3 separate regions of the Homo sapiens genome follow, and regions 1 and 3 are each linked to region 2. The links come from fine-mapping of genetic effects on gene expression. A gene starts in region 2. Each other region holds a variant in brackets. All regions are shown on one strand. Distances are from middle to middle. Region 1 has its middle 13 kb from the start of KCNA3. Region 2 holds the start of KCNA2 (potassium voltage-gated channel subfamily A member 2). Region 3 has its middle 33 kb from the start of KCNA2.

What was found. PIP is the estimated chance that this variant, and not a neighbour inherited with it, causes the effect.
Region 1: its variant is fine-mapped to the expression of KCNA2 in whole blood (TOPMed, PIP above 0.99).
Region 3: its variant is fine-mapped to the expression of KCNA2 in whole blood (TOPMed, PIP above 0.99).

The regions. Positions count from the first base shown.
Region 1 is chr1:110,660,084-110,662,931 of GRCh38, reverse strand. It overlaps a transcript of KCNA3 not described here. Among named protein-coding and RNA genes, the nearest start is that of KCNA3, 13 kb to the left of the region's middle. The variant G/A (reference allele first, on the strand shown) is at 1,338.
Region 2 is chr1:110,605,004-110,607,503 of GRCh38, reverse strand. It overlaps KCNA2 (potassium voltage-gated channel subfamily A member 2), which reads left to right and starts at 1,146. Exons shown (of 3, transcript NM_004974.4): 1 at 1,146-1,276; 2 at 1,782-2,113.
Region 3 is chr1:110,638,315-110,640,814 of GRCh38, reverse strand. No RefSeq gene overlaps it. Among named protein-coding and RNA genes, the nearest start is that of KCNA2, 33 kb to the right of the region's middle. The variant T/C (reference allele first, on the strand shown) is at 1,328.

The DNA of each region.
Region 1 (2,848 bases), 55 kb before region 2:
CTACTCCAAGCAAGAACTGTTTGAATTGCTTTATACCTAGAGTCTGTAGATCTTTTCCCTGCAGACCTTTTAACTGATTTTAAAAGAGCATTTTATTGTGTGACCATATAAATTGAAGATATTTATTATTAGTAGACCTAAATACGGCTCAAAGTAGTATCAATTATACCTCACAGCTCATTTTCCCATGACTTTCTAGATTTTTTTAAAAGCTCACATCTTAACATATTACTGACTTTAATTACTGAGTGAGATTAAAGGTTTTTGCTTGCTGAGAGTACATAATTTTCAAGACCTCAATCAGAGAATTATATAGAATCGAGTAAGAAATCTTTCTAGTCCTTGAGCTTATTCATTACCATTTACTTGGTAGAACTGGTAAAACTTATTGGTGTGCAGCTAACACTAAGTAATTTAATAGATGTCAAAGTATATAGACACATGAAAACAAAGTTCCCATATAACTACATGCTATAGAATGACTTCAACTCTTTTCTCATCAAATGTAAGTTGATGAGACTAACAGTTAAGTAAGCTAGGTTTCTGTACTTCTTTCATTTAGGCCTTTTGGAGGTATTAATTACTTCTTCATAAATTTGATAATTATTGAAATTTGACTATTCTTATTCTCTTTTCTTGTTCTATATGTTGGAACATTTATTTGGTAAATTATCTTCAATTATAGGTCACTGTTTTCTATTGTACTTCCTTTCTCTCATTTTATAGAATCGATTTTGGGTCCATTCTTCTAAGCCTTTCAACCCACATCTTAACCACTAATATAGACATTCTGAATTTTTTTTTTTTTTTTTTTTTTTTGAGACGGAGTCTCGCTCTGTCACCCAGGCTGGAGTGCAGTGGCACCGTCTCGGCTCACTGCAAGTTTTGCCTCCCGGGTTCACGCAATTCTTCTGCCTCAGCCTCCCGGGTAGCTGTGACTACAGGCGCCCGCCACCACGCCTGGCTAATTTTTTTTTTTGTATTTTTAGTAGAGACGGGGTTTCACCCTGTTAGCCAAGATGGTCTCGATCTCCTGACCTCGTGATCCGCCCGCGTTGGCCTCCCAAAAGTGCTGGGATTATAGGCGTGAGCCACCGCGCCCGGCTGACATTATGATGATTATCCTGATATCACTTTTATTTTTGTTTCGTTGAATTACCACCCCCTCCACACCTATACTTTATTAGGATGCCATGCTTATACCATTCTTATTTAATAATCTCAAGAGCCTTGAGAGGCAGGTATTAATACATGAGGTTGTTTTTTAAGGCCCACCGTTTTATATAAAAAGAATGTAACAGCAGCAAGACAAGAATAGCTTAATGCAGACTTCTCAA[G/A]GTAAGCAAAGCTGCAGTAGCATTGAGCAGAACCTAGGCACTTAGGAAATAAAATGGATGCTAGGTCATTCATGTTACTTGTGATTTCTTATGATTAGTAGTCATTAATAACTATTAGACCATTATAACTTTAAAACTCTGATAGTGAAAATTAAGCATACTGTGAACGTACTCTTTCTTTTTGCCTAAAATCAGCGTTAAGACTTTTAAAATCACTGATGAGCAGTGATCTGTCTGCGAGATCAAGGTGACCGAGTGTATAATCCAGGCCAATAAGAAAAAAATTTCAATAGATAGTTAATTGATTGCCCAGCACACAGTAGGCATACAGTATTTAATTTAGCAAGTGAATGATTCTTCCATCAAAAGCACACTCAAATTCCAGATCACCATCTTTGGGCATTTACCACTGGTTTTGGGCGCCTGCTAAAACCAGGAGTATATATGGGAAATAGTCTTCTCTACATATTGTGATGGATGATATTCACATATTCAAACCCAGAGCTGGGTTTATAGCATCTGGGTTTATAGCTGGGTTTATTTTTGTCTTTATAATTTCTGTCTTTATATTATATAGTTAGTAAATTTCTAGAATACATAAATCTAATTTTTATATATCCATTTATGTATTCAACATGTATTTACTGAGTACCTCCTATGTGTCAGACACTACCCAGGGTGATAGAGATTTATTCATTAATTCAGCATATAAAGTGTCTACTATATGCCAAACACTATTCTAGATTCTGGATGTAGGAAGTGAATAAGTCTATTGTATTGCTTTATCCTCTTCTTAAGAAATATTTTGCTATCAGAATTTCTCAATAATTATTTTGGCAGTTAAGGAAGGGAAGCACCAAATCTTTAACCTTTATTTCTTGTCCTGGTCAAGTGGTTATTATTGTCTTAATTTGGGAAATTTTAAAATGGTACATAACTGTGCAGAGTTCATATTTTAAAGAATCAACAGACTTAAAAGTTATTTATAATGAAGAGATAAATGATAGGAATGTCATCCTATTAGCACATAGAACATGGTTTTCTCAGCACTTATTTGGTGTCTTGTCTCTCTCTCTCTCTCTCTTTTTCTCTCCATGACACTTAGCGTTGGATTTTTATTCACTTCAAGAGTTCTCATCATAGATTACCACAGTAAGATGGGCAGCCAGGAAAAAAAATCCTTGGAAATACACTGAGAAAATTAACACATACATTTTTCTAAAAATCAATAGGCACTCAGAACCTTTCGATGATTCTAAGGCTGAAGATAAATTTTGTGTCCAAAAGCAAACTATCACACTGGTTTGGACTAAATTTCAAGATCATTATTAGTAGAAAAATGTCTATAATTTCAGCATACTCCAAAACGTTTTCTAACTTACAAATTAAAAGAAATATGTAGTTAATACATTTAGACAATTAAATTGCTTGAGGTTTTCAGGGTAACAGTTTTTAAAAAGCAACATTTAAAAAATATATAATGAATGGAACATTTTCTGTTTTTTTAAAAA
Region 2 (2,500 bases):
GCAGCTTGTCGCCCCGGCCCCGGCCCCGGCCCCCGCCGGCCCCTTTAATTCGAGTTCGCCGTCGAGCCAGGTGCGGCGCTGCGTGGCGCGGTGCGGCTGCGGGCGGCGGCCGGGAGCTCCGTACGCGCCGCCCGCGGGACTGCAGAGCCGGCTCCCGGCTGGCCGCCCGCACCCCGCCGCCGCCCGCTGCCGGGGTTCTGCCGGCGCTGGCCGTAACCTAGGAACATGGAGGCCCCGGTGCCCATCCGGAAGGGTAAATCCGTGTCGGGGCGTTGCGCGGCGCGTGCTGCCTTCCCTGCCCGGCTGCGGCGCCCAGAGGGGCTGCGGGGCACCCGGCGGCGCAGCCTGCAGCGCAGCAGGCTTGGGCTGAGTCCGCGGCGGCAAGCCCTTGCCGACCACTGCCGTCTGCTCGGCAGGTCCCAGACCGGGGAGATCAAGGGGAACTTGCACCCTGCTCAAGAAGAGTGCACAGAATGGGCTCGGGACCCTCTGGGGTTTGCGTGGCGCGGGGCGGAGGGCACGGAGAGGAGCTGGTGGGTGGTGGGAAGTGCAGCTGGCAGCATAACCATGTCTGGTAAATAGCGCGGGTTGGTAGGACCTGAACCACTTGGGACGGCCGGGCTGCATTCGCCTCTTCGGCACAGAATAACAAACGGCTTTGCTGCAGAGAGGGCTTTCCCCTTCGCTGGGGCCGTGGGCTGCCGCCGAGCCCCCGCGCTTAAAAGGAAGCTGAGATCTGGGGCGGCAGCCTGGCGCAGGCTACTCCCCACCCCCAGAGATCAGGTTCCGGGATTTTGGGTTGGACACTGAGCCTCGGCGGTCCCTCGGCTGGACGCCGGGGGCTTAAGAGCTGAACTGCGCTTGGGCCCGCAGCAGGAGCCGACCGCGCGGGCAGGAGGGGGTTAAGGTGGCGCTAGCGGCCGCGGCCAGCGGGAGGGTCTGGTCCTCTGCGCGGAGGCGAGCGCTGAGTGCGCCGAACGGAATCCCGGCCGGAGCCCGGGGCGATGGGGAGAGGGCCCAGACCCCTCCCCGCCCTGGGGCCGGCGGGATTGGGTCGGCAGGGGGCCAGTCCGGAAGCCGGCTTCCTCCAGGCTCCCCCTCTCGCTGCTGCCAAGCCGCCTCGCAGCTAGGCAGGCGGAGCGTTTATTCTGTGCTCCCTGCCGAGGAGATGTGAGGGATTTTCTCTTGGGGGAGAAATCAGTGGTCGAGCGCCTGCCCAGCTCAAATGCCACCCGGCTCAGAGGGAGGCCTGCGGCCCAGGGATCCCGGAGGGAGAGTAAGTTCATCCAGTTTTCGTACAGTGCAGACTTTGTTGTGTGGGGTCTCCCTAGATGCGCTCTGAAGGAGTGTGTGTGCTGGGGGGTGGGGTGCTTCTTTTCCAGGACTGGCTGAGGTCAGAGCTTGTAGACAGGCTGCAGTGAGCTAAGCCCTCCTCTTGGGAGCTGCTGTGTCCTGACATGTGGGGGTAGGAGTGCTTCTTCCAGAGTCCTTCCTGAGAGCAGCTGGGGACTAGCAACCTGGATCAACCCAGGGAGGCCCCTGGAGAAGGCAGGCCCAGCCAAGCCTGAGTCTTGCTCCCTGGGAGAAAATGCTTCAAGCTGATGGGAAGCCTGCCCAGAAGAGGCAAGGAGGCTGAGGGATAGTCCTCAGGCCTGGCATCAGAATAGAGGATGGGCATGGGGGCCTGTTACCTCCCATGAGGGAAGCTGCCAGACCCTCCTAAATCTTGGCACCAGCTGGTTCAAATGCCCTGGTTCCACCTTGCTGCTGTTTTTTTCCAGGCAACGTCACACCTCCTGAGGACAGCCAGGACTCCAGCTTTTGCTGAGCTTTGCATCTTGCCTCCTTCCTTCAAAAGGCTCCAGGCCCATGCTCGGCTGTCTTCAAGTCCCGCATGCCCCTGGCCAGGCACCTCACCGCCCCTCCAGCCCAGCCCAATCCTAGAGCTCACCTCCAGGACCCAGAGTCTGCCCTTCTGCCCAGAATGACTCACCATTATTTCTAGCTCGAGTGAGAAGACGTGATGAGGAGTTGGGCTGCCTGTTGGTGCATCTCAGATTCCTGCAGCATCTGATCAGCTCTGCAAGGAAGAGAGCTTCACGTCTCTGGTCAGGTAAATCAATCTATCATTTAATAACAGCCTTGTGTAGAATCACTGGGGTGGAGGCCAATGAGAAAGACCCAGGCCCAAGCTCCCCAACCATGAATACCTCCCTGGGTATGAGTATCTGAGACATTAGTGCAGCACCTGGGAGAGGGTCCACTTTTAACCTATTAGCATGGGGTTATGCTCCATGAAGCCTGTGTGCTACAAGCGGGCCTGTACCAGCCACCTTCCCCCAATGCAGGGCATTCCAGAGGTTCCTGGAGAGATTGCTACCTGCTCCCCCTGATCCCCAGACAAGTTACAAGGTGAAAGTAAATTTTGCTTTGTCGTTGTGGTGGTGGTGATCATGTGTCTGAACTCTTGGCTGAGAGATGGGAGACAAAAAGTGGCAAC
Region 3 (2,500 bases), 33 kb before region 2:
CAGGCGTGAGCCACCTCACCTGGACCAACTTCTTAATATTCTGGCTTCTCGCAGCCATCTAGCCTCTTTCTCTAGTTCTCTTTTCTGATCTTAATTCATGCATTAGGAAGATAGGCAGGACTGAATGCGCTTGGTATCTCATCTCTTCCCTTAATTCTACAAAGCCTCTCAGGTCTTCCCACAACCCTTTGCTCTACCATGCTCTCTCACTCTGCCCATCCCAGAACTCTATGCAGATGGCTCTTCCAGGTCACCAGCAGCCCAAAAGTAGCCTTTCCTTGGGTCTTACCTCCTTGACTTCTCCATCTTTTGGCATCCATCACACTGAACTGCCTTGCTTCTCCTCAGTAGCAATTATTCCTCTTCAGTCTTCTTCAAGGCTCCTCTCAGCTGCCTTTCCCCTCCATGTCCTGTCTCCCAGGCTCAGCCCTTAGTCCTTCTTACTTCTCCTATAATTTCTTCTCAGGCCATCATATACATTCCCATAGTTTAACTCTATTTGCCACTAACTCCCAAATCCATATCTCTATTCTTAGCCTCTCTCGCTTTAGCTCCTCCATTTCCAACAATCTGCCAGTCATTGCCACCAGGATGACTCACTGGAACTTCCCATCCAGACTGTCCAAGTAAAGCATTTTCTTTCTCCAGTGATTTGGCCCTTTCTTCTGACTTCCCTATCTCTAGCAGATACCATCATGCAGATAGTCACCCAGGCAAAACAAACAAACAAATGAACAAAAGTTGTCGTCTTTCATCCCTCCATCTTCCTCACTTACTGTAGTCTACTAGTTTTAAAATATAAAAAGATTCTACTCCTGTTCAGAAAGCCTTCAGTGGCCTTCCATTATCTGTTGATGAAGTGCCAACTCACCCTGCCTTTGCATCCCACACTTTCCAGTGATAGCCCAACACCCTTTCTCACCCAAGCTTCCTCCAACCAAAATAGACTCTGTCCTGTTCTCAAATATATGCCAAGCTTTTCTGCCTTTCTGTTCTGATGTATGCTGTCCCTGATATCTTCTTCTCCAACACTCAAAAGGACTTTCCTCTCTTCTTACAACTTAGGGTCTTCCTGAGTATTTGTGATATTTATCATGTTCTACTCCTTGTTTTTATCTGTCTGTTCCACCTCCTGAGGTAGAGGATGGGCTCCATACTTGAAGCACCTGTTTCCCCACCACACTTACATACCTTGTGCACAGCAGATCCTCATTATACTTTTGATGAATTGAATTCAGTTGGGGCTCAGCAGCTGTGTAAGAAGAACCAAGTTTCCAGGACCCTCTCCTCTCCTGAAACCAGGCAGATATTCTATTACTTGTCCCAC[T/C]TTCTCATCTTAAAAATGGGCCTCTGTTTTTCCCTTATGGTCTGAACATCTACCGTTTACCTCTGCAAGCAGTGAAAAGTGGTCAGATCTTTGGAACAATAGTCATAGCTACTGAGCACTGCCCATGTGCCAGACACTGTTTGAAGCGCATACATGTTTTAACTTCTTTAAACCTCTCAGCAAACTTGTGAAATAGACACTGAAATTCCCATTTTACAGATGAGGAAACTGAAGCACAGACAGGTTAAGTGGCATGTCTAAGCATAAACAGCTAGTATGGAGGGAACCAGATTCTCAGGCAGGCCCCTGGCTCCAGGGCCTATGCTCCCACCATTTTGCTATAAGGAAATGCAGATTTGAAAAGAGGAGATTTTACTTGTAGGTCTTGATGACCCCAATCCCAAAACCCAGAGCCTGGTTTGGTCTTCACAGGTTTGACCTAATGTGTACATATGTGTATCTGATTGTGAGTGTATGTGCAGTGGAATTAGGGGAGAGCCACCTGTCTTTGCACTCTGCTCTTTAGCTGGTGTTGTTGTGTTTGACGTTATTTCCCCAACACAAGCTTCCTGGAAGAAGACGGTATCTTCCATGATTTTACTCTCCCACTGGAGTCTGATCTAGCGCTTGTCATCTAGCAAGCGACCCACAAGTTTAAGGCTGAATCACATTTTCACATATAAAGTCAGTGCCCAAGCCATGTCTCTCATTTGAAGCTTCTGTTGTCTGCCCCCACTTCTCCCAGCCTCCTGACACACACCCACTCTCTCACAGAGCAGGTGCACTTCAGCAGAATGTAAGCAAATCAGTGCTGAATGTCAAAACGGATTTTACTCAATTATTAAATTGCGAGAACCAGGAGAAGAGCAAATAAATATCCCAACAAAGTTATGCTATGAAATATGTGAAACCCACCCAGATCTAATATTTAATTTAGACTCAACTGTCTCAACAGCTTTCTACCATCCCAGATTCCAGCCAAAGGCCATCAGACATGGCTTGGGGTGAAAACTCGGTAGCTATACAGGCCTAATGCAAAGACCAAGGCTGAATGATGGGCCACCCCTCAGGGACAGGTGCCCACAGGCCAGAGGCTGAAAAGCTTCTCCAAAGATGCCAATTAGCTCAAGCACAAGAACCAAAGCCTGAGCTCTGACATCTGCATAAGTCAGG